Linked DNA regions of Homo sapiens: all the other regions are linked to region 1. The links come from fine-mapping of genetic effects on gene expression. A gene starts in region 1. Each other region holds a variant in brackets. All regions are shown on one strand. Distances are between the middles of the regions.

The links. PIP is the estimated chance that this variant, and not a neighbour inherited with it, causes the effect.
Region 2: its variant is the best candidate, but not a certain one, in a credible set for the expression of RYR3 in adrenal gland (GTEx, PIP 0.64).
Region 3: its variant is the best candidate, but not a certain one, in a credible set for the expression of RYR3 in aorta (GTEx, PIP 0.63).
Region 4: its variant is the best candidate, but not a certain one, in a credible set for the expression of RYR3 in skeletal muscle (FUSION, PIP 0.51).

What each region holds. Positions count from the first base shown.
Region 1 is chr15:33,306,175-33,314,282 of GRCh38, reverse strand. RYR3 (ryanodine receptor 3) reads right to left here and starts at 3,316. Exons shown (of 104, transcript NM_001036.6): 1 at 3,187-3,316. The coding sequence starts at 3,237. It overlaps RYR3-DT (RYR3 divergent transcript), which reads left to right and starts at 3,624. Exons shown (of 3, transcript NR_120327.1): 1 at 3,624-3,705; 2 at 7,852-7,951. RefSeq lists enhancers at 2,074-2,583, 2,584-3,095.
Region 2 is chr15:33,446,070-33,454,177 of GRCh38, reverse strand. The region is part of intron 1 of RYR3 (ryanodine receptor 3); the gene reads right to left. Among named protein-coding and RNA genes, the nearest start is that of RYR3, 140 kb to the right of the region's middle. The variant G/A (reference allele first, on the strand shown) is at 4,201.
Region 3 is chr15:33,524,797-33,532,904 of GRCh38, reverse strand. RYR3 (ryanodine receptor 3) reads right to left here. Exons shown (of 104, transcript NM_001036.6): 4 at 2,239-2,313. Among named protein-coding and RNA genes, the nearest start is that of RYR3, 220 kb to the right of the region's middle. The variant C/A (reference allele first, on the strand shown) is at 3,530.
Region 4 is chr15:33,382,132-33,390,239 of GRCh38, reverse strand. The region is part of intron 1 of RYR3 (ryanodine receptor 3); the gene reads right to left. Among named protein-coding and RNA genes, the nearest start is that of RYR3, 75 kb to the right of the region's middle. The variant G/AAAAAG (reference allele first, on the strand shown) is at 4,530.

The sequences.
Region 1 (8,108 bases):
GAGGATGCCACTGCCAACAGCAGTGGGAGGGAAAATTTTAGCCTTAAAGATTCTGTCTATCTGCCTGATTCTAACTGGCATACATGACTGTCAGTGATTTCAGAAGGCCAGAAGAGGGTATATAGTTTTAGACTGCCTCCTTAAGGCTTGGGGTACAGTAGCATTTAGTTCACATGTGTTTAAGCTTCCAAAGCCCTTGTTTAGGTCTTGTTCCCTACTTAGGAGAGGGTGGGCTTCCAAATGTATCAGAGGACATAACCAAAATAAACACTACCACAAATAAGTGTCTAAAGCCACACCACACACACCTACAGTGGTTACTGCAGTAATTCTGGCTCATTTCACACTATCAATAGTTCTAGCTGCTTTCATTTTTGGCACTATTATAACAAACCTGACACTACAACCACTAACAATTTGATTAGGATCCTTGGCATAATGCTATTGTATGGTCTTTTTTTGTAAATAGGTTAAAAGCTTCTGCTCTCTGGGATGGCAATCCTTTAAAGTTCATGGTTACAAAGATATGATTCTATTCCATGGTCCAGTATGAGTCACCTTCTCATCCAGGACCATGTCGATGTGAGGAAGCATTATATATGACTAATACACTGCCAAAATGCTTTTAAAGGTGTTGTCTGGGGAGGAGAAAGAAAGCCTAAGGCAAAGGTAACTGAGTGAGTTCAAAGTGAAATAGCTTCCCTAACCCAGACATACCCAGAGGAGAGAAAAATCCCACTGCTAGCACAAGCCTGGTGTTCCCAACTACCCTAAAGTCAAAATTTTGTGCAGAGATCAAAAGCTTATGGCTATTGGATTCCAAAAAATCATTTTGTCGAATTCACAGATGAAGAAGGAGGATGCCAAGCTCAGAAAGCTGCAGTACTCCTCTTATGTTCTTAGGTATATTCTTAAGACTATATATAACATCTGGCGTAACGCTCAATGCCAGGCTCTAGCGGGAATGTAATTGAACATTGTATAATGAAAATTACCAATAACTTGTCAACAGCTATGTTCAAGTCACTCGATTTCCTGTGCTTCAGTTTCATCACCTATTTCCTTCCCAGTGAGCTAAAAACAAAGATGTTAAGGTGCCTCATAGGGTGAAGAAATGAGGAACACACCTTAAAAAATACATAAGGTGATAACTAGAAGGAAAAGAACCAATAACGCCACATTTGGAGTCACTGCCCCCATGGTTACCACCATCACTCGCTCTAAGCCATAACCGGTATGCAGTTCTCTGCAACAGGGGCTCTGAACCTGGGTCCTTGAACCCCACAGGCTGTCATGGGTGTACTTTAAAAGAGGTCTGCCAGCTCTGATCTCTAGGGCAGGAAGCCCAGGACACAAAACTTAAGAACCACTACTATAGTAAACCTTGGCTACAGGTGTACCAAAAACAAACAAAAACAAAAAACACTTACAATGCCAGATGGAGAGGAAAAGTCAGGGAAGATGGCTCAGAAGCCAAGAGAAAAGCATAAGGATCTCACAACAACTACCACCTTCCTAAGCCTCAACTCCCTGGGACATCTATTCAACACTGACCCTGTCTGAAGATAATTTTTTCAAGCAATAACGCCTAGAAGATCATTAATAATAAGGAGAAGAAATGACTGATCATGGAGGACACAAGGCAGAAAAAACCTGAGCTGCCACCCATCCACTACTAAAGACACCTGTCAGAGGGACAACCAAAGGATTTGATGGAGCTTTGAGGGGAGCAGGCAGCTTTATAACAATAGGGTTGTCATGAGTTGCAACTGTGGGGCCATCTTGTGTGCAGTGTGAGAGATGAGAATGGAGTCTGGGTCTGCAGGTCAGACGAAGGATGAAGAGATGAATACTCTAGCCTCTCAGTAGTACCAGCAGGGCGATAGGTACTTCCATACCCCCCCCAAATAAGACCCAAGTCCCAGCTTTGACAAAAGAACCATGTTTGGAAGAGAAACTGAAGTAAATTGGAAGGAAGCGCTTCAACAGGAGGAGAGTGGTTCAAAAGATGGACAAGAGGTAAGTTGTGATCTTCGAAGACCAGGTCATGGAGAAGGGGGCACCCTTAAAGGGAAGTGAGAGAGGGAAAGAAAGAATTTCATTCTAATTCCTGAGAGCAAGGCAGCGCATATAAAATTACCTAAGATTTACAGAGCGATTTGCCGTTTACAAAACATTATGACATTCACGATAACGTTTAATCCTTATCACCCTGAAACGCTGGTTACATTTTATTTTACACATGAGGAAACTGAGGCTGAGTAGGGCGGATTATGCGACTTGCTCAAGGTCACTTGGCTGAAGTCAGCGCTAGGATGCATCCCCAATGCCCCCACCCCTCCGGGTGGCCGTCCACCCTGAAAGTCTTTGTATTATCTCCTACAGGGCAAGGCTGGTGTGGCTGCAACAGACTTCGCCCCCTCACCCCCAAATCTGGGACGGAGCAGCGCCCTCAGGTGTCAAGGAGGGGACCTGAGTGACGCGGAGCCACTGACTGGGGTTTCCCTGTCCTGCGGGGCTCGCGGGAGCCAGGAGCAGAAGCCACAGCTCTCGAACACACGACAGGCAGTCAGTCAAGTCAGGCTCCAGCAGCAGTTGCCGGCGTGGGGCTTAACACGAGAGGGGCAGCGCTGGGTGAATTCCCCTCCGAGCGATCCCAGGGCTAGGACCAAGCGCCTGCGCCCGCTTCTCCGACCCGGCTCCCCACACTCCCCCCTGCCCCGCTGGCTCCTTCCCGGAGGTTCCCCTGTGCGTGGGGGCGCCCTGGAAGAGGAATGGGGCTGGGGTGGAGTATGGAGGTGTCAGAGGGCCGACCCCGGGGCGAGGGCTTCCAACGCCGATCTTATGGGTCAGGACAACCGCGAACAAACCCCGGCTGAAGTTTGGGCATCAAGGGTTTCAGACCAAGTAGCAAGTTGCCTGGAGAGCGAGCGGTCCTAGGTGGAGGGCCTGGGGCAGGGGTGGCGGTAGGGGAACAAGGGAGAGGCAGGAGATGGTGCCCCTTCCCACGCAGCCCCTCGCGGCCCCGCGGGTAGGTGGCCGGTCCGCCTCTGCAGCCCGCGGGTGCGGAGAAAGCGCCCGGCACCGGGCACCCGGCACCGCGGCGCAGCGCAGCCAGCCCCTCCTCGCCGCGCTCCGCGCTCCTCCCCACCTGCCCACGGCCTCGCCCCCGCCGCGGAGACTCACAGTCCTCAGAAACTGGATCTCGTCCTCGCCTCCTTCTCCCCCTTCGGCCATGGCTCCCGAGGCGTCGGCGGTGCCCCAGCCTCCGGCGCCTCTGCTTCCCCCGGCAGCCGCTCGGCGTGCGCTGACTGCTGCTGCGCTCTTTCTCCTCCTCCTTTTCGTCCTCGTCCTCCACCTCCTCCTCCAGCTCCTGGCTCAGCCTCAGCCTCAGCAGCGCCAAGCTAATCCCCGACCATATAGGGAGCTGGGCTAACACTCCACTGCACTGCAGAGCGCCAACGCCAACCAAGCAGTCCGCCCACCCCTCTCGCCTCTCGCCCCAGCCAAGTGCGCTGCGGCCGCCCGCTCCGTGGAGAGCGCAACGCTGGGCGCGTCGAGCTGGCGGGGGCGGTGCGGGGGCCCTGGGCTGGCGCGGTGGAGCCTCCCCCGCACCGCTGGGTACCGCACCGCACACTCAGCGGAGGCGCGCGCCCCGCGGCGACCGGAGGATGTCCCCTAAACTGCTCCAATTCACAAACAAAGGCCAGTTGCTTAGCTCCAGCGCGCCCAGACTGGGTACCAACCCTCTCGCTTTGCTCGCTTTGCCCGCTTTGCCCACTTTGCCTGTGTGTGTGTGTGTGTGTGTGTGTGTGTGTGTGTGTGTGTGACAGAGATAGAGAGAGAGAGAGAGGAAAGAGAGAGACAGAGACAGAGAGAGAGAGAGAGGAAAGAGAGAGACAGAGACAGAGAGACAGAGAGAGGAAAGAGAGAGAGACAGAGACAGAGAGAGAGAGAGAGAGAGAGAGAGAGATCTGGACTCGAATACCTTGCTAGGACCCGCGTGCATTGTTGGGCAAGGAGAAGACGGTGCAGTGAGGAGCGAGGGTGATTGTCCACTTACAACAAAGTTTGCAACTCCCTGGATAGTCCTTTCTACACCTTAAGAGAACCCCTTCCCCTCTTCAAAATTGGTAAGTACACTTTACCAAACCCCTGGATTGTCCAGGGTTGCTGTGACTTCTGTACCCCAGGGAGCTTCTGGGGGATCCTGTGCCACCCTCAATTTGGAAGTCAGGTGGCATCACAACCCTTCCTCTCTGCCCACCCCTAACCTTATTCTGCATTTAGAGTTCCAGCCCTGTGGACTCTAAAGGGAGTAGAGAGTAGTTACAGGAGGCTCCCTTCCAGGTCCTGGAAGGCTCCTACATCCCACCCAGCCTTAGGTCCTTTTCCATGGTTGGGGATTGCCAGATTGGTCCTTGCCTTGACTGACGGTGCAGGGTGCCCCCTTCTGTTTGATGGCCGAGAAGCTCCAAGGCAAGAGACTGTTCAAGGCAAAAGGCACCAGAGATGTAGATTTAGGAGGAAGTGCAACTGGGAAGGTGGTAATTCTGGGCTGATGATGGTGGAAGACACTGGAAACCCCAAGCCATTTCACAGCTTCATATACCGCCTCCTTGTGGACGACATCTATCTCTTGATGCTACCTTAAGATCTCTTTCCTGAGCTTCCGTCCCATATGTTCTGATGAACATCAGAAATGCAAAGAAAAATGTTTTTTTCTTGTATTGTACTCAAACTGCTACCTTCTAGGCTTCAGCTTGGGCCTTGTGCCTCTTCTGAAACCCGCCTAGAATAAGTCAAACCATCTGTACATTGTGGCCCTTCACCTCTTAGAAGGCATCTGCCATGCTTGCCTCTATGGCCCACCATCCACTCTTTTCTTCTCCTGGCTCAAGGTTCTTCTTAGCCCCAACTTTCCCTGTAGTATAGTTTCCAGAGCCTATGTCATCTTTGATGGCCATATGAGCATTCCAGGTGGTCTTCTTCCTGAATTGTTGTGCTCTCCGTCCTTGTTTTGGACAGTCTTTATGTGCAGCCTAATATTGGATTGGCTTCTGGAGAAACACTAATGACACTCACTGTGTTTGGAGTTAACTAGAATTTCTAGATTTACTTTTTTCCTCCCACGTGAACTGCAAAAGTCAGCTCTTCTCCATCTTGATCACATGCAAGTGCTTGAGTACCTGTGGGCACGGTGGCTCACGCCTATAATCTCAACACTTTGGGAGGCCAAGGCGGGTGGATCACCTGAGGTCGGCAGTTCGAGACCAGCCTGACCAACATGGAGAAACCCCATTTCTACTAAAAAAAAAAAAAAAATACAAAATTAGCCGGTCGTGGTGGTGCATGCCTGTAATCCCAGCTACTTGGGAGGCTGAGGCAGGAGAATCGCTTGAACCCGGGAGGTGAAGATTGCCGTGAGCCGAGATCATGCCATTGCACTCCAGCCTGGGCAACAAGAGCGAGACTCTGTCTCAAAAATATGTGTGTGTGTGTGTGTGTGTGTGGGTGGGTGTGTGTGTGTTCCTTCCAATTGTAATACCCAATCATGTATTGATGTCTCTATATGTGAACCTTTAAGGTATTTTTAAAGCTAGAGTATGCCAGGCAAGGTGCTAATTATTACTAACCTGTGATATGGCATACCTTCAGAATACTAATAGAGGCCCTCTTGGATTAACTTTCATACTTTTGATTATGCTTAATATGGCATACCTTCAGAATACTAATAGAGGCCCTGTTGGATTAACTTTCATACTTTTGATTATGCTTATTTAATGATCAAGAACTTACCTAAGTCAGAAAAATAATACCTATTGAGTACTATGCTTATTACCTGCGTGACAAAATAATCTGTACACCAAACCTCCATGACATGCAGTTTACTTATGTAACAAACCTACATATGTACCCTTGAACCTAAAATAAAAGTTATAATTAAAAAATAACCTACATAAATATATTATTTTGCAGCCCAAATTTCTTCTTGTTCATAGGGCTACTATAAATGCCTTTCTTACATACTTTACTGAAATACAGATATGTAATCTGGGACACCACCTCCCGCATCAGTCAAATAACCCTACCACAAAAGAAGTAAGAATGGAGTTCTGTAACACCATTGGTGCATCCACTTGGATTCCTGATGGTCTTTGTGTTCCTTTAGAGTTCCCAAAAGTAAGCTGTTTAATTATCAAAATCTAAGATTGTTCTGGAGCTCAGCGTATAAAAGAGTCTCAGGCTGTTGTTTCAGACTGTAAACTGGGGAAGGTGGACATTTACTTCTATTTGAAATCTATTGGTACTTCTTCCATTCTCTAAGATTTCCCAAAGATGCACCAATAATGATGCTGTAGTCATACAGGTACAGATAAATAGTAGTTCAGACACTGTGCTTTGATACTTGTTTTGCTATTAGTTCACCCATTAAGACCGGGAGAGAATAAACTAATAGTAAGTTACTTGTCTAAATTCATACATCTAGTAAAAGGAGTCACACAATCTCCTCTTACTTGGAGTAAAACAATCTCAATACTTTTCAGTACTTTCTCCACTATAGTGCCTTGCTTCTAGAACAGCAAAGTGGAAAACATCAGGTTCATACACCACCTCCATGCCCCCATACCCCATACACATTGGGTTTGCTTCCACACAGCCTATATTTTAAACTGAGTCTCTCTCAAGACCAGTTACTCTTAGTAGAGAGCCGGAGGACTTGGACCTTAGGTCTTAGAGGGTACTGTAGCTACTACATTTTGAAAGAAAAACCCAAAGCCTCCCAGGTTTCTAAACCTCTGGAGAAAGCTATCAGCCATTATTATGACTTCAATTAGGTGCACACAACAGGGAAATCAAATACCTTTGGGATACTGGCATGGTTCAAAGTCAGACCTCAAAGCCTGCTGTATTTGAATGTTGGGGCACTCTGCAGCCAATATCAACAGCAGGTGGAGAGCCTGTAGTGGGGGCCAAATCAGAAATTTTTCATTTTTATCATTATAGCACTTTTATACCTTTTACATATACAATTTTAAAGGCCTGACATTGAAATATTGTTATTCAATATTGACTATTGAAATAAAATTCATGTATTTATTTTCTCCTCTGGAGGTTCTCAAAGTATTGGTCCTAAGGATTTTCTCACATAAGAGGGCCTCTTATTTGTGTTTTAACAGTAATATTGCTATAGTTTTAAAATGCTAATGAAAATGTCCACACTCATATAAGTCAGTATCTCATTTGCTATGTTGTATTATTCATGGTAGCCAGTTGCCCAAGTGGTCTCAATGAGGCCAAGGATATGGATTCAGTTCTAGGAGGGCCAGTTAGCTTCACTCCATTTGCTGTCCAAAGACTCTGGCCCCTTCATTCTGGTTAAAAGTCTCATACATCTTTGTTCATTTAGCCATAGGGGAGGCAGGCTTAAGCTTTAACAAGCTAGGACTTCCCATGCTTGGAGACACAGAAGCTAAGAGGTCACACTTGATAAAGATAGCCTTCACCCATGTTACTAGCAATATATTAAATTCTACACAACACTAAATCTTTCTCCAATATCCATTTCAGCCTCACTTCCTAACTATAGCAGCCATCCATTTGCTGAAAATGCATTTCTTCCATTAATTGCGCTCATGGCTTTGGTCTGCATTGACTCAGGATTTGCCTAAGGAACATATAAAAGGGAATGATGCAAAGAACTGTAGAGTTGAGGGAACTGACTCTGCTAGCTACCATCTTTTAAAATATCTCACCATATACACAAGTACTATTATATACTGACTGAAGATTTATTTGTTTTTCATTAGCAAAAAGAAAAAAAAACACTTTTCTCTGCTTTTTGTTCAGGTGTTCCAAGGCAAGAAGTTATTTTCACCAGGGAAGCCTGTGAACAGAAAGAGCTCCTGAGACTACACCTGCTTTTAATTTGGTGTCAGTAGGAACGATGGTATACACATTTTACAAAAGTCATTTTTTAATGTTAAGAAAAAATTATCAATTGTTTCCAAGATCTTTATAATAAGCTACTAAATTGGTATACTAATATAGCTTTGTCCTAAAACTTGGAAGCCATACCAAAAATCCTTGATTCAGATTCCTTTCTA
Region 2 (8,108 bases), 140 kb before region 1:
CATGTCAACAGAAGCCATGTTTTCCAATACTACAGCATCTTCGCAAAACTTTGTCAAGTGAGCCTCCCACCTCACAAATCACTGAAGGAACAGACCAGAAGGATAGCCTCCAGCCTCACGCAGAATTCTTATGATGTCTGCTTAGATTCTGAGCTATTGCCAATTTTCAGGTCCAGTACCACTGTCCAAGCCTCAACCTGGCAAGAATTCAACAATTCTTCATTCAAAACAAGTCAATCATTTACCCGCTGGATCCTAGGAAAGGACCCAATGAAAAGAAAAGGCTGTGTTTGACTCACTGTTCCTCTCCAACAGAGTCAAAGGGTTAATCATTTGTGTGCAGTCTGGGTTCCTTGATTGTAAATTAACTTTTTTTTCATATGAAAACACAGGAAGACATTAGTATTATTTCCCTAATACTTCTTTTAGAAAAAACATCCTTATTTTTCTTTCCATAGAAAAATCAGGAAACTGCGTGGCAACTGTTGCAGAAACACAAAGACGATGCAACTCCACATGCATATTTTCCAAGTATACCAGGATTTGTGGTACAATGGACAGTTAACATTTGTATACAGATATACATTCTTTGGGAGAATCATCACTATATTACAGCAGTTGTTCCTTTTTGCACCAAACCTACAGAACTGTTGTAGGTCTTATTTTATATTTCTGCTTTTTTATGGATAAGCAATCAATATATAAGACTTTCTCACCCAGGCAATCATGGAAGCAAATGTTGTTTCCTTTAGCCACATACAATGGTAGGAATATTATGCAGAGATTGTTCTAGAATACACAAAAGTCCCCAAGCAGCTAAAGTACTTTTAAAGCTGAAAAATGCTGGTAAAATCAACTACATCTGGGCCAGAATCAGAGGTAAATCGACATAGAATGCCTAAAAGCCATCTGAATAGTAATTAAGGTTTATTTTTTTTCTACAAATCTTACTTTAATATAGCACTTAACCTTTCAAATGTTCTTAAGCCAACAAATGGATGATTTAATAAAGGTCTTAGTTTATTTTGAGCTTTGAGATAGAACTTGTTGCTTGACTATATTCCATTTTGAAGCTTTGGCCTGCAGTTCAGGCTGCTGCCCCTAAGGAAAAAAACCCTAGTTTCAAGTGCAGCAAACCTCACTGGAGTCTTCAAAGGAAGGAGAAAGGTTGGAGCCAGGAGGCTTCTGGCAAATGTTGGTATGAAGATTTGCTTGCAGACAAGTCAAACATTCAGAGACTGAGCCTCCATTGACCCTAACAGATTGCTGTAGGTTTTTCTGTAATTAGGAATAAAGTATTACGGTGTTTTTAAAGTCTGTCTTGTTCACTGATTAATTTCACTACTTTAAGTTTCATATAAAATCCATTATAGCAGGGTAGGGAAAACTACCAGGTTCTGAAATCAGACTGTTTGGGTTGGAATCTTCTCCCTGAACCTCACCATGTAACTTTTGGCAATTTTTTTAACCTCTCACACCTCAATTTTTTTGGCTGTGAAATGGAAACAATAATAGTCATTTATTCACACATTGTTTGAGGATTAAATGAGTTAGTAAATATAAAACCTCCAAAACAGTACTTGTATCTAACAAGTACTCAGTAGATATTGGCATTTTGTTATGATCTATCATTATATTTAAGAAGCCCTTTAAGAATAACGAATACTCAATGGCCTATGTCTTCTTATAATAATAGAAATAAGTAGTCTGATTTTCATAGACATATTATTTCTAAAGTTGCAGCCAAGATTTAGAAGAAATGGGACTGATTTTTTTTCTCTTTGGTTGCTTTTCTGGCAATTGAGATGCTGCTTTAAATCTAAGCAATATAAATTATCCTTGATAGATTACCGATCCAAAGCCACAGTATCAGTCCTGCTTTGGAAAGTTGGAAGTTAAAAAGAAATATCTTGTTTCTGTCCTGCAATGAACTGGCAGCACTCTGGGTGATTACCAGGGCAGAACCAACAATGAGAAACATTCCCTTTCAGCCCTGATTTGTACCCCATAACTGAGCTTACTCTAAAAGAAAGGCTGGATCGCAGCCTTTGGAACCAATTTTAATTCTGAAAGAGGCAAACACACATGGCCTGGCCCCAGAGTCTTGTCCCACTATCACGTCTGTTTGGTTGTTGGAGCATGGAGGCCCTTTCCGGGCCTTCAACCAGACTTCAGTGCCTTAGACAGTTTGATTAAGTCTGTGATTGTGATTTAATTTTTAAAAAGTCACCAGAATGAAATCCCAAAGACTCCGGTTTGAGTACTGATTAGATTATTCACTGGCTGCATGGCTTTGAGCAAATCCCTTAATTTTATGAGCTTTATTTATCAACTGAAGTTAATAATGACGAAGTCAAAGACTACTGTGAAGAATAACAATCATACATGAAGATGCATCCTATAAACTATAAAGCAGAAATATTAATAACTCAAATTTTCAGGCTTCAACTTTTTTAGTCTCTCACTTTGCATGGGATTCCATCTTCCTTGCTATGTCACTCTGGACTTGACTCCTGTCTGCACTGGACTAGGCTTGTCTTTGGACTTGACTGTGACCTGAAGATCTTCCAGCCTCTTTTCCATCCTGGCAAGTTCTGGCACGCTGCTGCAGACGTCACTGACGCATTAATAATTCTGGAGTTAACATAACCTGCTTGTCCACCTCACTCACATGATTGTGGAGCACATTTTTCCCCAGTTTTTTTTTTTCCCCAAAATTTAGGTTCCTTTTCCAAGACAATCTTGACAATTTATAACAGAGCTATGCAGCCAGTGGTCACTCTCATCCGTTCATTTTATACTGTCCAGCCTCTATCAGGCTAAGCTAATGGGAACTGTTAATATCCTGAAAGATAAGTGGGGAAGGGGTAGAGAGAGAAAGGAGCAGAACAGGGTGCCCGTTTGAATAGAGGTAATGAAGGTCACTGCTATCTACTGGGGGAAAGTGGAAGGAAGCCACCATTTATGGAGTGCCTGTTATGTACCAGCTCTGTGCCAGGCACTTTATAAACAGTACTTTATTAAACACTGACAATGATCTCATTTGCATTTTACATGTGAGAAAACTAATAAGGTTCAGACTATCTGTCATTTACCCAAAGCTACACAGTGGTAGAGATAAAATGAGGATCCAGGTTTGCCAGCACAGATTTGCCTCTAACAACATTGGGTTGTTTCAGGTGCTGCAAGGAGTCTCCAGTAAGGACCACACGATGCTCCATTCTGCTTCCCTCAGTGATCACAGCAAACCTCTGAGGGAATGGGAGTAGGCACTGGAACTTGTAAGCCAGAAAGCCACCAAACATGCGTCCTACCTTGGGGCCTTGAGGAGTAAGTGGAATAGGAGACACACAGGATTGCACTGTTTCCTGTGGTTTGCGCACATGTTTTAGAAGCTCCCCTTTTTCTCGGCACATGCACATGAACTAGGGATGACTAAAACCCATTTACTTGACATGAAATTCATGAAGCCAGGACTCAGTACTCTGCAAGGTAAGGATGCTGCAAGGTGTGCAGTGTAAATAAAAGATACATACGTAGCCCATAAGCTGACATTGTATTAAAAAAAAAAAAAGAACCCTCAAAAAATTCAAGAACAGAGGGTGCAAGGAGCTCAAGGAGCTCTGCCTAGGAATAGATAACGTCACTCTGCTCCAAACAGTTTTGTCTCAGCACCTCGGGCTCTGTAAACTGCTGTGTGGAGAACTTTGACTTAGAGAAGCTTGAGATGAGGGCGGGCGGCAGAAGCGTCTTGCTGCTTGCAAAGCTACAGGGTGTACAGCCTGGGGCTTGGTGGCATCCAGTCCCTGCCCTCTCTGCCTTCTAGCCTTAGAAATCCATTAAACTCACAATCAGAGTCTTGTTTTCCCAAATAAAGTACAGCCATTAGATTCAAGAACTAATTATTTAGCAGGATTTTTATCTCTAAGGACAACACAAAATCTCAGATTCTTGGTCAGACATCTGAGCCCACTAAGCTGTATCTGAGTGAAGCCATGCAGGGTGTGGATGCCCCTGGAATTCTCCCATTTGAGAACTGTAACTGCTAATGCTCACAGTTGCCGGCTTTTTTTTTTTTTTTTTTTTTTTTAGGTATTAATGCTCTAGCCGCAGTAAGGACAGGAAAAAGCAGGATTGAGATAACAGATAATTTATGGATACTTTGCCTCTAGAAGGGAAGGGCAGGGCTGCCACTAAGCA[G/A]TAATTCAAACTAGGTTTAACTTTCCTTTTGGGTATTCTCCACCTCATCCAGTCCCCATTCTACTTCCTCGGCTGCCTTTGTCCCCCTCCTCCCAGTCCCACCCAGGATTTGGGGGATCTTTATGCTTCCCTCTGGTTAAATACCTTCCTTTCACACCAGCATGAACACCGTCTTTGAAGCAAAGAGATCCGTGCTCGAAAATGACTGACCTACCCTATACACCTTGCCAAAACTTCTGTTCTCTTGACGTTATTGCAAAAAGCAATCTGATTAAACTTAGAGGAACCATCAGAATTCTTTCAGGTTTCATTATGGCATTTGTGTTATTTTTATATTCAGCATGGGACAACACACGACACTGTTACATTTTAAAATACATTACTAATAAAACAAATGTATTTCTATAATATATTTAATATTCTGCCCCCCATTCACACTATGTTATGTAGAAACCTCTTGAATAGCCTTCAGTGATTCCTGCCTCCTGGAGCTCACACCCTTGTGCAATCCCTGCCCGGTGAGTATGGGCTGGACCTAGTGGCTTGATTCACGATGTCATTGCCAAGATTATGTTACAAGGAGACTGTGAGTTTCACATTGTACGACCCCTCTTTCTGTCTCGCTTGATCACTGTGGAATCCACTGCCTTACGGAGGGGGTCATGTGGTCAGGAATGGATGTCTCTGGTTAACAGCCAGTGAGGACCAGAGGTCTGTCCCAGCTAGGTGAGTAAGCTTGGAAGTAGATCCTCCCCCAGCGGAGCACTAAGGTGACCACAGCCCGCACTGACACCTTGATTCAGCCCTGTGGGAGAACCAGAGCCAGAGGCTGCAGCCAAACCACACCCAGATTCCAAGCCTACAGGAACTGAGGTAATAAGTTTGTTGAAGTTGCTAAGTTTGGGGATAACTTGCCACTCAGCAATAGACAATTAATTACTCTCTCTGCCACAAGTTTTGAGTAGTGAAACTCTTTCCGGGACTACTTCTCAGGCCCTTGCGTCACAAATACCTGACGTTTGTGGCACCACTTCCCTTTCTAAACCTGTGGAAGACGAGGATAATCAGTGACCACGTTCTCTCCCCCACACTCCAGGCAGCCGCAGCCACTTCCAATCAGCTGCAAGGGGCAACCGAGACAGAGCCATTGACCCTCAGGAGCTGACTGCACAAGAAAGGTCCTGCCACCTGTCAGCCTCCTCACCTAATGAGGCCAGAATCCGCTTCCCAAAACCATAATTCTCTTACTCTTTGATTGTTTTCTCCCCAGGAGCCCAACTGCACTGAAATAGTGAAAATACAGATTAAAGTTGATTTCTGGATAAACTTCACCTTTGGTCTAGCAGCAAAAGGCCCTCATCATTACTTTGTCACCATCTGTGGAAACTCTTGTACATACTTTTTATTTTATGTACATTTCCTTGTTAGTGCTCAGCCACCTTCAAATCTCGCTCTCAAGGCTTTGCCTTTGTTTTTCTCTTCAGAAATGCCTGTTTCTCTGAGAGGTCTACAATAGTCTCCCCTGATGGGGGTGTTTTATAACTCACAGGGAAACATGAACAAATGACTGGCCTCCTTCACCCTTTCAGGGTCCTATTCTTGTTCACTGGTAGATTGGGTAGCCTCAGGGCAAAAGGTATTATCCTGCTCTTAGTCCCACTGAAACATGACTCTGATCTGGAAAAGGGAGAGGAGCAAAAAGCAGTCATGAAACACAAACTGTCTCCATATTCTCGAGGCCAGCAGCTGGCCAGACGTCTGCTTTCTTGAGAGGGGCTGCTTATCCTCCCGGAGGCCCTCACTGGAAGACTCAGCCACCTCAAGTCACTGGAACCAAGACAAGAGAGAAGAAACTGAGGCCAGGTTGGTCTGAAACAAAACCTCAGATAATTTGCTTTGCTCCAATTTAACCTCATTGTAAAAGGCATGTAAGTTGAAATTACAGTACAGGACCATTTTCTATCTCTTACATTGGTAATTTTAGAAAATATATTTTTATTATTATCCTGTCTCTGCTACTTTCCAATTTGGGGGACCCAACTTGGGCAAATTACTTAATTCACTGAGCCTCAAAAAGAGATTTGAGTTTAACCCATGGTAAGTGCATGCTAAATGGTACTTATTACTATTATCATCTATTGAAGTAAACAAAAAGTTATGAGCTGGGCTTTAGAATTATGCTGAACAAAAGAACTTTCAGTGATGATGGAAATGGTCCGTACTCTGTGGCCACTAGTCATGTGTGGCTATTGAGCCCTTGAAATGTGTCAGATGTCACTGGGGAACTGAATTTTTATTTTATTTAATTTAACTTTGCCTAGCTACATGTAGCTAGTGGCCTCCATCCTGGACAATTTTATCTGTGACAGTCCTTTCAAGGATGATCTTATCTGTGAAAAAGCCCATCGTCTCATGTCCTTCCCAGAGGGAGCACAACCCAATGCCTGCTCTGACTGGAGTACTGCAAAATACAACCTTAACCTCCTAAGAAGTCCAAAATCCCAATACTGCTCGGAGGAAAGTAAGTGGGCATGGGGTGGGGAAGGAAGTCCTTTTAGGAAAACAGAATGCTCCTGACCTACCATTAACAGAATGTCCAGTTCTCCTGTTGCTTTGAAGACTGCCCAGTTCATACCCAGTTATCCCCATTCTCAACTAGTCACCCTAATGGCTACTGGCTGAATGAAGTCAGGGGGTTCTCTGTGTGAAGGTAATTAGAGTACAGGAATTTATCATCATGAATACCAAGTTCTAAGCAATGAACAAAAGGTTACCTTTATTGACACTACATGAAATAGAAGCTGTCTCCAAACTAATACTAACACATGTACATCCCACCTTTTCTTTTACTAAGCACTTATACTACGCCAGGCTAAATAATAGAATGCAAAGTTGAAAACGGCCTTTGGCCTCATTTCTGTCATTCTAATCAGGGCTGCAGATGCAAGTAAAGAACTGTGGTGCAGGGTGAGACGCACTCTACAATGGCATAGAAGAGTCTGCCATCAACTCCATTTGTTGGGGAAAGAGCAGGAAAAAAGTTTTCTGAGAGCAAGAGGCAACAGAGCAAGGTGGTGAAGGCGTTGGAGAACCTGCCTTCTACAATATATGTAAGAGAAGGAAGAGTAACAGCTGTTAATGACACTAAAGTGCTAAAAGGAAGCTGTTAAGTTTCTGCACTAGAGTGAGTTTTCTGGCAGAACTAATTAAGATTGGGATACTATTATGGGCTGAACTGTGCTTCTCCAAAATTCATATGTTGAAGTCCTAACACCCAGAGTACCTCAGAATTTACCGTATTTGGAAACAGTGTTTTATAAATGATAATTAAGGTAAAATCAGGTCATACGGTGGGCCCTAATCCAATCTCACTGGTGTCTTTAGAAGAAGAGATCAGGACACGGACACACACAGAGGGCCGACCATGTGAAGACACAGGGAGAAGACAGTCATCATCTACAAGCCAAGGAGAGAGGCCTCAGAAGAAACCAAATCTGTTGACACCTTGATCTCGGGCTTCCAGCCTCTGTAACTGTGGGAAAATAGATTTCTGTTAAGCCACCCAATCTATGGACTTTATTGTGGCAGCTCTAGCAAACAAATACAAACACATTAAGCTTATTTTCATACCCAACTTTCACCCATGTAAAGAAATATTAGTATTTATTCTAAAGCTTCCTTATCTGAGAGGGAAGAGCTCAGTTGTCCTAAGTCTTCAATTTCGAAAGAAAATCTCAATCTCTTGCCTGGTCCTTGCGAGGAGAACACTAATTTGAGCAAGAGAATCAGAAAAGCAGAAGTTAGTGAGGTCAGTGGTAATTAAACGAATTTTCTCCAGGTGGCAGAAATAGTCCCTAGTTTTCATTCTGCACCTCGCCATGGATAAAGTAATTATCAAGTGTGGAAAT
Region 3 (8,108 bases), 220 kb before region 1:
CTTCAAGTGATCCTCCTGCCCTGGCCTCCCAAAGTGTTGGGATTACACATGTGAACCACCCTATGCCCAGCTGAAAATACTTTTACAATACACTTAAAACCTCAAAGATGCTCTTATCTGATGACTCAGTAGTTAAATGTATAGAACTATATGTTATAGAAATGAGTTAGAAATATTAAAGATGCCTTAAAGATGTTGAGAAACTTTTAAATTAGGAACAATACAAATGGAACATAAATGACCAACAATAATAATAAAGCTAGATAACCTTTGATACTGCTATTTTATATAATATTATGTTATTGAGTATTTATCAAGAATGTGTAAGAGCCTGGAACATTATTTACAATACATGAAGCTAAAAAGTAATATATAAAATAGTACAATTATAAGTTAACCTGTACTCAAAAATTTAAATGTGTAGCAACCAGACTAAAAGGAATTACACAAAAATGAAACAGAAGTTGATTTTGGATAGTGTGGAGGGACATGGATGACCTTCCCATGACCATGGGACAGAAGGTCCCATGACCTTCTGTTTTTGGTTTTTCAAATTTTCTATGAGCTTTAAAACTCCTCAAAATAATGGTTCTTTTTCTTATTATAAAGATACATGGGCAGGTAAAACTTAGAAATGACTGTTAAACTAACTTAATAAAGCATCCCATGGCCTCCTTCACTGATGGGCATAGCTGCTCATCTTAGGATTAGACTGAGAGGCAGGTAAGCTCTTGGGATGTGCTTTCTAAGCCACAGTTCTACTTCTCTGCGAGAGGAAGATGGAAAATCATTGCAATGTAGAAAGCCATATCTTATAGGCTTTATTCCCAGAGCTGTACTTAAAAGGAGCTAGCCAGTAGAGAGTATATGTTCACTGTGAGTAGAACTTTTTTTTAGGAGGGGTAAACTTAATGTAAATAATGCAAGTCTTTGTGTCACTACCATGATATTAGCTTGTTTTTGAAGCCATAAGAAGTATGCTTTTGAAGTTCTGTTTATTACATTTAGGTAAAGACAAGTGTTGGAGTTTTATTTACCCTATAGATAAACACCAGATTCTGAAAGATAGTATCACCTTCTCAATTCCAGATATTATCAGGGTTCAAAGTTTCCCTACTCTCAAAAACATCTCCATCTCCTACTTGGATACACTTCCGTTTGGACATTTTTGTTTTTCGTCTTTTGCCATGAAGGACTACAGCAGACGAATGTTCAGGCTGAAAAGGTCAGCCTCTTACCAGTGCTCAGAAAAAAAAATATATATATATATATGCTGCAGCAAATGAATTATTTAACAGGCAGCTGTTGCTCCTGTTGTCAGTTTGATAGTTCAAGCCTTGAGATGAACTTTGCATCATGCTGCTGGTATAAATGTGTGGAAATAGTCTTGAATTAACGTATCAGTTTTCCACTAGGGCTAGAGGAAAATGACAAGCCTTTCTTACACCGAAAGAAAGTGAGGATGATACACTATTGGAGTGGCATATAGTTGATTGAGTAATAATATTCTCCTTAATACTCCCTGCAAAACTACAATATCTGCCTTTTAAAATATTGTAAAATTATATTTTTTTATAAATTATAAATAAATTATATTTAAAATGTAGCAATTTTTTCAAGTTACATTGAGGCATCATCCTTCTGTCGATTCTGGTTCTAGATCCCTGATTAGTAATAGCCATGCAGCTTTCTGTGACTACCTTGCCTCTTGTCTTCCTCCTGGCTCTGGATTAGCATCCCACCTGCAAGTTCTTCCAGGACTGAAAACAGTGAGTACCATTCTATTTCTCTTAGCTAGGTAAAGGAGGAGAACTGTCACAAAATTTCCATTTGATTGGTTTTTCTTCTATGCTGGTTATCCTTGTATACTAAAGCGCTCTGTTACTCCATAAGCCATTTGATCATGTGTCAATTCAACAAATATTTATTGAGCATCTAGTATATCAAAGCACTGCATTTGGTGGGGTTATAGGTCTAGCAAAATAAGAAAGAAACATGGCCCTCTTCCTCAGGGAGTTGGAGGTGGGGTATCAGACATTGATGAAACAAAAAACACAATTGCAATTATTGCAAATTGAGGTAGGTCATATGTAGGAAATGCCAAGAGGATAACGTGCTAAAATTAGTTATGTTCCAATTGTTCCTGCTGTTACGTTGTTATTGCTGGCTTCCTGTATTTCCCCCTCTTCAGTTTTTCCTTCTCCTTGAATGATGAAAGTGGGCACCAGAGCTGCTTACCATTCCGCTGAAAGAGTGCCTCAGGAGAACTGCATGGCCGTATAACAGGGTCCTGTGGCCACCTCCTTGTGCTGCCTGTGGGAATGAGGAAGAATAAGGTCAGCACATGCCCGTTGTGGCTTCTCCGGGAGCCAAGCAACACAATAATTCTGGGAGACAGACTACCAGGAAAAGACCCATTGCAAAGCTCCTAAGGAATTCATTCCAGAAGCAAGTGGCTGGTCTACGGGCAGAAAGAGACGTGTGACCACAGCCATGCAACATCCTTGGGAGAGGGTGTGTGGGACCAAATCTATTCCCAGAAATGGCCTCTGCCCAGGATCAGCAGAAACCCAGAGCTGTTCTACCAGAGAAGCATGTAAGTGACATAGGTACTGCTTACCTTCCTTTGAAACTTCTCAGAAGCGTTCAGAGTGAGAGAGAGAAACAAATGTGATGTAGCCATAGCCTAGCAACACAAAGGCAGTGTGGCAGGCGGCACATGGTCACATTCTGTGCCATGCAGTCTTTTCCCTTCAAGGCACTTATGCCTTCTGCCCACTCCCTTAAATGGGTCCTTTATACACAGATCTCACCAACGAGAGATGGCTCTGAAATCCAGGACTTTAAAAGGGTAACCAGTTATGCAGAAATAGATCCTTCAGTTGAGAGACCATCTAGGTATCTTCTCTGCCTCACCAGGCAGTTCCACTTTGGCTATTTGCTCAGTGGCTGCCCAAACAGTGGGAGAGGGAGGCATGAGAGGGAGAGATGGCCCGACATAAAGCCACTGGTGTCTGTTTCTTATTCTTTCCCTGAATCTGATTCACACGTCACCATGCTGAACTGAATGGTACATGATAGGAGACAAAACTGTAATTTATTATAGTTAGAGGTGAGTAGGTCGCATGGAAAATGGAAATCTACAGAAAATTCTAGGAGTTTTTGGCATCAACATTTCCAACCTCTCACCTAAGTATCTCTTCATCATGCTAACCAGCAATCAAGTTTTTGATCACACACCCTTTTTGGAGAAAATATTTGAGCATAAGCCCTCCCCTCCCCAAACATGCACAGAAAGAGAATCTAAAGCTTGAGATAAAAATTAATTATGAAGATAATTCTAGCATTTTTCTTCAAGGACACCTCTTATGCAGTCCATTTTATTCAGAGTTACAGACTGGCAGCCCAAGGACTGGTTTGAGGCTCTGCCCGTCTCCCGTGTCCACCTGCAACCACACCAATGAGCAATGCAGAGGAAAGGGAATCAGGTAGTGTGGAGGACAAAGCCTGGAGTAATTTTATTTCAATT[C/A]TATTTGGATTAATAGCATCACTCTGTCAAAAAGATGATTTTTCATGTCACATAATGAGCCTAAAGAAGAGAAAAAAGATAAACGTGGTATCATGTTCCAAAAAAGCCGGTAACTAAATATAAATGCGGCTGCGCTTTTTCCCACAGCTACAGAGATTATTTAAGTGTTCTCCAGGCTTTAATACTGTGTGGAATTACAATGCTCTTCACAATATTTTAAAATTTCTTGAAATCATCTGCACTAACTTTAGTTTCTGTATTTATAAATGTGTCAACAGCTAATGTTAAAATTAGACATACCAAATAATTTTCACATCTTGCCAATCTACCAAAAATTGATCTTATCCACTTATATTATTACAAGTTAATGGATGGCTCCTGATGGCTTACACTGTGGGTGTGTCCTCCCAAAACAGTCCTACATCTCAAACGGATCCACTGACCAGCTTATACTTCCTACCTTCCTCCAACTCTTCTTTGTCCCTACCAACTCTCTAATCATAAGAAGAATTAAGAGTCACTGATCCCCAAAAGCTGGGGGAGGGGGGTGTCATGTTTTGAGAACCATTGCTTTCAGGGAACAAGCAAGCTTCAAGTGCTAGAATGGCAAAAGTGGTTTTCCTACAGAGCTTTTGATAATTATCATCATGGTGATTACTACCATTGGGCACACACTACTGAGGTTTACAGAGATTAAGTAGCTTGCTCAAAGTCATATAAGTTCCAAGTTCACAGTCAGGATTTAACAAAAGTGAGGGCACTTAACTATGTGCTATACTGTCTCCTTTTCTGAAGTTTGATGATGGGGGATGAGATTTGTGTATAAAAATGATGTTACAAATGGAAACACCTATTAAAATAGGTGAAGGCAGAGAGTATTGAAATAGACTAGGAGGATAAAGAGGTATCATGCAATGACCTTATTGTAAAAGTAGGCCACAACATTCTGGTAGGACTGTTGACACACCTCCATAGTAAGAGAGGAGCACATGTGGGCAAAGGTCTGGAAGTGGAAAGAATAAAGCACATATGGGGACTTGCAGACCATTCGCTGGTTTGTGGTGGGGTGGATGAACAGGAGTAAAAGGACATGACACAGGATGTAGGTGAGGGGTGGCCAGATTATGGAGGGCTCAGACTGACTGGCTCAGTGGATGGACTTTGTTCCACAGCTAACAGGATACTGGAGTAGATTTTTGAAAGGACAGTGTCACAATCAAAATTGTACCTTAGAAAGGGAACCCTGACTGCAAAATGGTGGAAGAAATGGGACGGTCAAGCCACAGAAGTAGAAAAAAAAATAGTCTCATTCCGTTTCCATGAAAGCATTACGAGGGGTGAGCAGACCAGAAATCTTGGTGTCATCCTTCACTCCTTTCTTCTTCTCATACTCCCCCATTAGTTCAAAGCATCTTTCGGTGCCACCTCCAAAAGATACTCTGTATCCCACTACTCAGCACCTTGCGCCTGCCAGTCTAGTCCATTCTATTGCCACCAGGTCTCACCAGGGTTTTGTTAATCACCGACCTTCCAACTGTGCTCCCTGCTCTGCCCTTCCTCCTTTCAGTCACGGCAGCCAGAGACATCCTTTAAAAACTGTCAATCACATCATGTTACTTTCTTGCTCAAAAACCCACAATGGCTTCCCACCATACTTAAAATACAAGTACAAAGTCCTCACTGTGGCCTCTAAGGCCGTGCATCAGGCAATTTTTTTTCTGTAAAAGGGCAGATAGCAAATATTTTAGGCTTTGTGGGTGAAATATGATACGCCTTTTTTTTTTTTTTTGAGACAGAGTTGTGTCCCTCTGTTGCCCAGGCTGGTGTGCAGTGGTGCAATCTCGGCTCACTGCAACCTCTGCCTCCCAGGTTTGAGCAATTCTCCTGCCTCAGCCTCCCTCCTGAGTAGTTGAGATTACTGGTGTGCACTGCCACACCCAGCTAATTTTTGTATTTTTGGCAGAGATGGGGTTTTCCCATGTTGGCCAGGCTGTCTCGAACTCCTGACCTCAAGTGATCCACCTACCTCAGCCTCCCAAAGTGCTGGGATTACAGGAGTGAGCTACCATGCCCGGCCTTAATGTATTTTATTTTATTTTATTTTTTAAAGAATTTGCCCTTTAAAAAATGTTTTAAAAACATTCTTCTAAAAATTTAAAAACCTCCCTTACCTAAAGGGTTGTACATAAACAGGCCATAGTCTGGATTTGGCCTGTTGGCTGTAGTTTGCATATCACTGCCCTGTATGACCTGGTTCCCTCATACCTCTCTAACTTCACCTGCCAGCAGCACGCTCTCCATCACATCCTCTGCTCCAATCATACTGGTTTTCCTCTGTTTTTCAGACACGCATGCTCCCACCACAAAGCTTCTGCACACGTTTCCCTCTGTCTGAAATGCTCTTCCAATATTCTCATGGTTAATTTCCACCCTTTATTCAGTTCTGTGCTCAAACATCTTATGAGAGAATTCTTCTCTGGTCAAGTCTTCTAAAAGAACAATCATCCTTACTCTGTCACATTTTCTGCTTTATTATCTTCTGTGGTATTATTTTTAATATGAATTTATTCTCTCTCCCCCTAGAATATAAGCTCCATGACCATGTTGTATCCTCTGCCATGCCCATGTCAGTGCCCGGCACCATAGGAGGCATGCATTAAATATTTCCTGAATGAGTAAGTAATTAGGGGAGGTGGTGTTTTGGTTTCATCTTACAGATGGAAAAAAAAAAAAGGCATAGAGAATTTAATAAACATTCCCATGACGAGCTTGTCAGCAACGTGTTTGGATTTGAACTTAGGTCTAACTACAAATTCTACTCTTTTCATTGTTTGATACTAATTCTGGAATAACATTCCAGGAAAGGTGTGATATGCTACATAGAAGATTGTGTGGGTCTGCTCACAAAGGAGGTCCAGACCTCAAGACTGGGAAGATTTATCAGGATGGCAGTCCTGTCCCTGCCACGAGTGACCTTGGCTATTACCACTGGCAGAAGGAAAATATTTGGTTCCATCTCGCAGGATGGGGGTGGATCAGGGAAATGCTGGTAAAAGGCCCTGATGCCATGTCCAGAGGAAAAATGTTCCACTAGCTCATTAACTCAATCCTCGTGCCCGTAATTTCAGAATTAATTTCCATTACTGACGTTTCTTCTAGTAGTTCCCAGAGGATATTTCTTCCCAGTCAGATAAACCAGATACGGCAACTAAGGAGGGGAGGGGACTATGCTTCTGTCCAGCCACACACAAATGTTTCAATACTGTTAGAGCTCCAAACTAACTTCCTTTAACATCTCGAACCCTAAATTCCACTTTGGGAGTCCCAGGCAATAAGAAATCTTCCAAGGCCTCAGGAAGGCTCCTTGCTGAGTTTGTTTGGAAGGTCATATTCCTAGGAGGTCTTGTAGGGGATGAAGTCATTTTCCAAGCATGGATGTGCACTTTAATTTTCTCTTCCTTTCACACCTCACTTCAGTTCCCCTCTTTTAGGCTACAGAAGAAAGAAGTCTTTCTGGAAGCTCACAGAACAATATTTCCTGAACAGGCTAGAGCCCTTTTACATTGCCTGGGAGGTTTGCATTTCCTTTGATACAAGTGACAACTAAATAGTAATGATGCCTTATAAGTAGAAAACAATAATACTTAACAGTAGAAATAAACAAAAGCAAGTCACCCAGTATATTCAGTTAGAAAGCATAATGAAAGATTCTACTCATGATTTCCACAAAATGTTAAATTTTTAGAAATCTGCTTAGGTGAAGGCAACCTTTAAAATCAAACTACAAAACCTCATTGTATAAAATAAGATTTGATTTGATGAAATGGAAAGGTGTACTTTGTTACAGGATGAGAACATTAATATTTGTAACTGCTTATTCCCCTAAATTTAACTGACAGATTTAATACAGTTTTAATTACAATTCTAGTGCGATATTTTGCAATTTCACAAATTGCTACAAAACTAATCTGGCAATATAAACAGTAAGGATTTTTTATTCTGAAAAGAACCAAGGTTTTAGTAAATGTTATGAAGCCAAGTTCATTAATTCACTCTGATACTCTGATTCAAAGAGAAAAGTGTGGCACAATACAGACAGTCCATAAACAGGTCTGACTATATGAAAGTGTAGCATATGACAAAGCAGATTTCAGTACAACAGGAGAAAGGCGGGGTTATTAAGCACAAGTCTCTGTGAGATGCGGATGGCAAATGAGAAAAGCTTTCAGTAAGATCCACAGGAAACATAAAAAGATAAGTTACAGATGGATAACATAATTAAATATTTCATTTTAAAATTAAATTCTAAAACAACTAGCATGCAACGGAAGAGTCTACATTCTTCACAGACCTAATATTTATCCATGCTTTGATGCATCAGATATACTCAAAGGCAATAGAAGACAGATACGATTGTACCAAAATTACTGAAATTCAGAACAATGGAAACACCAACATTTAATAGACTACAGAAAGACTTTGTAACACTATGACAAAAGGGTTACTATCTCGTTGAAATGTAGGGAAAAAAACTAAGCCTCATAGAAGTCGGCAAAGAATATGAATAAATGACGCATAT
Region 4 (8,108 bases), 76 kb before region 1:
ACAATACCAATGGGCTATATTTAATGATTGCCTTCATTTGAAAAGCATATTGAAAACTGAGATTTCATTTCTTGTCTCCCAGCAGCGAGACTCTGCTTGGAATAACAGTACAGATTTCCAGCAGTGAAGCCAATTCATCCGGCGACATAAATTTCATTTACCACAAACATAAACCATGTTTTCAGCAATAATTTACATACCTGAAATGATAGAAATTGGAAACTAATCAGCATAGCCTAAATACATGGCCCTCTTCATTGTAACTTTTTATAGCCAAAGTGACCTTTCTTAGTGGCAAGGTAGCATATTTATAGGATGCTATTTTCTCATGTAATTCACTGTCATGTTACATTTTCATAAATATTACTGAAAGGTGAAATAGCTGCATGTAATAATAACCCATAAATACTAAACTGCATCCTTGAAAAAGCAGTGAAAAGATATTAAATAAAAGTTTGCAAAGAGAAAATTATTCACGATTTCACACAAAATGCCTGTTTTGCATGTTACCTTTCAGACTCTGTCCAGATCATATATATTTTATAAGGTTATGATCACATTGTACATCAAGGTTCAGATTTTAAACACAGGACAAATATTTTTCATATTTTTCCATAGATGTCATAATTGTCACTCCATTACATTACTTGCTGCGGTAGGAGACAGTTTTACTTTTAATCTGTGTATTAAATTCTTAATTTTTAATGCAAGTAATCGATACCCATTGTTACAAAATAGTCAAGAAATTATTTTAAATGAAAAGTCAGTCTCCCGCCTTACCACATGCCAGCTGCTGTTATTCCCTAGTAGCAACCACTTTTATTTAAATGTCCCTGTTTTTAATTTTCTACTGATCATCTCCATATCACTAAAAAACATACTTACACTATTATTTCTTAATGTATTGATTTTAGATATGATCTATTGATTGCTACTTTTGGTTTCTGTATGGGTTTCCTTTGTAATTACTTATCCCTTCATTTCTTATTCCATCTATGATGAATTTTTTTTTATTATACTTTAAGTTTTAGGGCACATGTGCACAACGTGCAGGTTTGTTACATATGTATACATGTGCCATGTTGGTGTGCTGCACCCATTAACTCGTCATTTAATATTAGGTATATCTCCTAATGCTATCCCTCCCCCCTCCCCCCACCCCAAAACAGTCCCCAGTGTGTGATGTTCCCCTTCCTGTGTCCATGTGTTCTCATTGTTCAATTAAACATGCGGTGTTTGGTTTTTTGTCCTTGTGATAGTTTGCTGAGAATGATGATTTCCAGCTTCATCCATGTTCCTACAAAGGACATGAACTCATATGATGGGCAGAATTTTCTTAATTCTCCGTTCTATAGGAATAAAGAGTGATGAGTGCCCTCATCTTCCCCTTCAGGTTTCCTCCCCAGCTTCACTCTGAAGCTCTCTGTTGTTCATGTTTACACTTTTATAGCATGGAGGTTGATAATACTTACATGCTGTTCTGTAGCCATGTCTGTCTTCCATGCTTTGTCTATAGGTGAATTCTAAAAGTTGAAATCAATGAACAGTGTCTATATAATGATGACTCCATAACTACTGTTCACTCTTAGAAGCCAATGGTATAGCGTAGCTCTATTTCCTTTATTTTATAGCATTTTATTTATCCTGGGATTTATACTTGTCCTTGTCTTCATTCTTGCAATGTTTGTATTGCTTCCTTATATGATCTAGGAAATTAAAGGTAGCAATGTACCTATAGAATCGCTTTTCCTCACTAATCCCTACTCTCTGATACCTCCTCCCAAAGCAATCATTTCTCCTGCTCCAATCATAACTAATTGTCAGTAAAATTCAGCTGTCAACCTGGGATTCTCCTTCCTTACTCTATTGGGTTGAAATTATTATTTCCACTATACCATCTTCCCTTTTACTTTTTTCTCCCACTTAGAACATATCTGAAAGATCTGTGTTCTATTCTTACACTTGCCTGATAGTTTTGCTGGGAAGAGAAATCTAAATTGAAGATAATTTTCACTCAAAAACTTAAAGTTTTACTTTATCAACTATCACATCCTTTGTTGCTATGGTTCCTGATCTTTTGCAGGTGGCCTGTTCTTATGTTTTCTTGTTTTGTTTTGTTGTTTTCTTCCTCAAAAGATTCATAAATGTTTCTCTTTATCCCAGGTGTTCAGAACATTCAGAAACTGTGTTTTCTCTGTAGATCATGTTTTATTTATTTGTGCTAGACATTAAGTGGCTCCCTTCATTCTTGTTTTTTAGTGTTGTGAAATTAAAATTTTTTTTATAATTTCCTCCTCTTTCTTTCCTCTGTTCTTTCTTTCTAGTCCGCCTAGACTTATTCTCTATAACTTATCTTTTCTCTCACATTCTCCATCATTGTTTTTCTCTATTATACCTGCCTCAAAATCATCTACCCTTTCAGTACTTTAAAAAACATTATACAGTTATACATTAAACGTTTTGTTCTTTGTTCCTTTTTTTAGAGCATTTTGTTCTATGGATGCAGTGTCTGCTTACATTTTTCTGAGAATCATAAGAAAAAAAATCCAATCTCTTCTCTATTTCTGTTTTTTTTTTGTGAGGTCATTTTTCCTGCCTATTCATCTTGTGTTCTTTTCTTCATTTTTCAGATTTTCTTCAAATATCTGGTGATCCTTAGTTGCACATATTTAAGGATCAAGCAACAAAAAACTGACAGGTACCTTATGCCCATCAAGATGGCTATTCTCAAAAAAATAGAAAATAACAAGTGTTGGTGAGGATGTGCAGAAATTGGAACCCCTGTGCCCTGTTGCTAGGAATGTAAAATGATGCTGCTGCTATGGAAGAGTGTGGCATTTTCCCAAAAAAATGAAAAATAGAATTGCTATATGATCCAGCAAGTCCACTTCTGGGTATCTACCCAAAAGAATTGAAAGCAGAGTCTCTTAAGAAATATTTGTACACCTATGTTCACAGCAGCACTATTCACAATAACCAAAAGGTGGAAGCAACCCAATTGTCCATCAGTGGATTAGTGAATAAACAAAACATAGTATATACATACAAGGGAGTATTACTCAGCCTTAAAAAGGAAAAAATATTGCTGGGCGTGGTGTCTCACGACTGTAATCCCAGCACTTTGGGAGGCTGAGGCAGGTGGATCACGAGGTCAGGAGATCGAGACCATCCTGGCTAACGTGGTGAAACCCCGTCTCTACTAAAAATACAAAAAATTAGCCGGGCGTGGTGGTGGGCGCCTGTAGTCCCAGCTACTCAGGAGGCTGAGGCAGGAGAATGGCATGAACCTGGGAGGCGGAGCTTGCAGTGAGCTGAGATTGTGCCACTGCACTCCAGCCCGGGCGACAGAGCAAGACTCTGTCTCAAAAAAATTAAAAAATAAAAAAAAAGGAAAAAAATTCTGACACATGATACAACATGAATGTTAAGACATTGCACTAAGTGAAATAAGCCACCAACACTCTACAATTCCGCTTCTATAACACATCTAGAGAGTAATCAAATGCATAGAAACAGAAAATTGAATGGTGGTTGCCAGAAGCTGAGGGAAGGGGGAATGGGAATTGTTATTTAATGGATAGAGAGTTTCAGATTTGCAAGATGAAAAAGTTGTGGAGATTGGTTGCACAATGATATGAATATACTTAGCAATATTGAACTGTACACCTGAAAATGGTTACGATGATTTTTTAAAAAGAGGACAAGGAGCTGTAGCAGAAGTACTGGGGCATTATCCATTGTCTTCTCAGCAATTACAATTTCAGCTCATGCTGGCATGACTCCAATTTGATTTGAGTGCACCAGCTCATGGCAATGTTTTAAATTTTTGACGCGAAAGTAATCAATATTAGCAACACATATTTTTATATTAACACTCTTCTCCAAGATATGGGCTCAGTGACATCTTATGAGTTGTTCTGTATTTGGAAATGGTCTTAATTATGATACAGCAAGGAATGAAACGCCAATGAGTTAAAGAAACTGCTCAGAACACAGGAGTTCTGATATTTAGTACAAATTTTCTAGGAATATACAAAGCAAGCAAGAGGGGTGGTGTTGGAAAGAAAAGAATTTCAGGCTGTATGAATCAAAAGAAATGCTACCACCTTAAGACAAATTGATATAGAAAGTTAAAAGATTTTCTTTTTAGCCTTTTAAATCCATAAATTCTATTTTCTTGAAGAAGGATTGTTTTTATTTTATAACAGTAACATGTTTTAAAAAAAAGAAAAGAGGCTGGGCACAGTGGCTCACATCTGTTATCCCAGTCAAGACAGGAGGCCAGGGCGGGAGGATCACTTGAGCACAGGAGTTTGTGACCAGCCTAGGTAACATAGTGAGACCTCATTTCTACCAACACTTAAAAAAATTAGCCAGGCTTGGTGGTGCACACCTGTAATCCCAGCTACTTGGGAGGCTGAGGTGGGAGGATTGCTTGAGCCCAGGAGTTGGAGGTTGCAGTGAGCCATAATAATGCCACTGCACTCCAGCCTGGGCTACAGAGTGAGACCCTGTCTCAAAAAAAAAAA[G/AAAAAG]AAAAGAAAAAGAAAAAAAAAGAAAAGAAAAAGGGGGCAGAAGTGTCAGCATATTTCTTGAAAATACTCAATATAGAGCCAACTCATTACTGTCCAAAGTCAGTATTAACATAGAAGATGAGTATTTAGCTTTACCATTCAGATTTTAAACTATGAGGTTTTTGTTTGTTTGTTTTTAACGTAGGACAATAGGTAAGTACTTTTTAACTTTGGAGTCTCATAACTCTATAGATAAAAGCAGTAGTAGAAGTAGCTATGGACTAAGAATGACTTGAATCATAATGCCCATTACTCAGCTAAAAATAATCAGTCGAACTGAAGTATCCTGGCATTTTCAGGGATAAAAAAGATAAATTCCATTTTCTCTGTTGTTAGCAAAGAGAACATATTTCTCCACCTTCTACAAGGGGAAAAAAAAAGTACTATTAAGCACAAGGGGATAGTATCTGGCTCTAATTCAATTCTGCCAAGAGGCCCAGAAGTAATCAATAAACACTTATTAACTAATCACGCAGCATCTCATTTCCGTGAGTGAAATGGTGAATGTTGTATACATCCAGAAAATAACCCTTTAATGTAGATGAAAAAGTAGAGGAATAAGGAAAAAGCTGTGGTAAGTGACATAAAAAATTTGATTTTACGTGAAATTTCACAGGAAACTGTTTAGCTTTCTTTTTCGTATACCTTGCTGGCACATCTAAGGGTGGAAGGGAAAAACATCAAGGCTAAAATATTATGGTCATATTTTACTGTTTCTTTCATAGTTATCCTTTAAATGCTTCCGCTATAGTGTTGGAAATTCCACACTACCTCCAATCAACCCTTAGAAAATCGTTAGTCAAAACAAATGCAGTCAATTTCAGGTGGGGGGCATGTTAAGGAGGTGTTGGTCAAAGGATACAAAATTTCAGGCAGACAGGAGAATAAGTTCAGGGGATCCATTATACAACATGGTGATTATAGTTAACAATACATTGCATTATTGAAAATTGCTAAGAGAGTAGAGTTTAGATATTTTCATCACAAAAAAATGGTAAGTATGTGAAGTAAGGGATAGGTTAATTAAATTTATGTAGTTATTCCACAACGTGTGTGTGTGTGTGTGTGTGCATATATAGATATGTATATATAAGGTTGTACACCGTAAGTATATATTAATTTAAATAATATTAATTAAATTAATATTATTATATTATTAATTAAAATAATAGTATAATTATTATAATATAAAATATAATATTATAATATAATATTATAATTATATTAATTAAAATAATAATGACCAAAAAAACAAGTACAAAATACCCAATTTGTGTTGACAAAACTCAATTATAATCAGAGGAGCCAAGGAATTTTTCAGATAATTCAGGCAAAACCCGGATGCCTCTGGCCTGCATTATTTAGTAGACTCTTCATCCACTTTACCTTTTCGTGTGCCTTGAGGAAGGCAGAAGATTTAGGTTGCTATCCTCTCTGAAAGCTTAAAAAAGATAAACAGTCAAGGCATCTTTCCTCGGTCTGGGTCCAAAAGCTGTATCTTACATATTTGTAATGGCAAGATTCTCAAAGGGAGACCTAGCTTTAAACCTAGGAGACAGGACTTGCCTGCCTATCAAAGGGGGGCAGAGTGCACAGGACAAAAGCCATTGTTTTGTTTAGCTCTCACTTACAAGTGACAACATGTGGTATTTAGTTTTCTGTTCTTGCGTTAATTGACATAAGATAATGGCCTCCATCTGCACCCATGTTGCTACAAAGGACATAATTTCGTGCTTTTTTATGGCTGCATAGCATTCCATGGTGTATATGTACCCAATTTTCTTTATCCAGTCCACTGTTGATGGGCACCTAAGTTGACTCCATGGGTTTACAACTGAATAGTGCTGCAGTGAACATACGACTGTATGTATCTCTTTGACAGAATGAATAATTTTCCTTTGGGTATATACCTAGCAATGGGATTGCTGGGTCAAATGGTAGCCCCTGGGGACTGCTAGATGGGGGAGGGTGGAAGAGGGGCATGGGCCAAAAATACTACCTATTGGGTACTATGCTCACCACCTGGGTGTTGGTACCATCTGTATGCCAAACCTCAGCATCATGCAATATATCCATGCAACAACCCTGCAAATGTACACCCAATTAAAAACAAAATGGTCACACCAAGTAGAGACTAAGGTGGACTCTCGTAGTTTGAAAGGTAAGACTCAGGTATTGTGGACCCCATGAAAATGCCGGACATTAACTCATGCTATTATGAAATCCAGAAGGCAATTTCCGGAAGATGCCAACAGGGATCACCAGTCAGAGGTACCACAAATATGACATATCACCGAAGTGTGGCGTATCTCAAAACTGCATTCATTTTTCTGGCCTTTTTCTATTTTTTCCTCTCTCATGACGGCAACACTAGATAGCCAGTTGCCACAACAATACAAAGCTGGCAGTCATGTCACACTCCTCCCTCCTTTCTCACATGCATATCCTGGAGCTCTGACATGCTCATCATTCACTTTTCCATCCTCTCTTGGTCTTGATCTTCACTGTTACCCCCATCACTTACTGTCTGGGATCCCTGCAACAGTCTCCAACACTCACCTAGTCTCCCTGCCTCCATGAGGCACTTCTTCCATCTCTGTTTCCTCACTATGGCCTAACAGTCTTTTTGAAATATGATTACATTGTTTTCTTATTTCAAATCTGTCAGAGGTGCTAAGTCATTCTAGGTATGAAGAATTTGTTCATTTTTTAACTGAAGAATTTTTTTTTTAGTCATGATAATACAGCTACAGGTTTAAAATTTCAAATATTACCAAAGGGTATGAAACGACTCTTGTCATTAAAATGTAAGGATCATTTTCATGAAATGTAAGTTGTTCACTCACCCCATGCCCCCAGGGCTCCTACTATTAACAGTACCACAAAATTTTTCTATGCATATATATGTGTTATATTAACAGATATGTCATATACAACATTTTACACAAATGCATTTTATGTAATTTATATTGAAGATTACGTCATATGAATGTACACAGATCTACTTCATTCTTTTGCACAATATTGAAAGTATAAAATGTCATTTTTTGGGGTGGGCACGGTGGCTCATGTCTGTAATCCCAGCACTTTAGGAGGCTAAGCAGGTGGATCACCTAAGGTCAGGAGTTTGAGAGCAGCCTGACTAATATGGTGAAACCCTGTCTCTACTAAAAATATGAAAATTAGCCGGGCTGGTGGCTTGCACCTGAAGTCCCAGCTACTCAAGAGGCTGAGACAGGAGAATTGCTTGAACCCAGGAGGCGGAAGTTGCAGTGAGCCAAGACTGTGCCACTGTACTCCAGCCTGGGCGACAAAGCGAGACTCCGTCTCAAAAAAAAAAAAAAAAAAAAAAGCCACTTTTAAAATTAGCAGTTCCTGTGGATATTTATGTTGGTACCTATACTAATGCACAACCAAGTTTTAATACCTAAATTCAGCAGACGAGTCCCTTATGATCTGGCTGCTGCCTACACACTTTGCTTCATTTTCCTTTACTTCCCCATATCCAGTTTTCCTTCCAGCCCCACCAAGCTTCTTGCA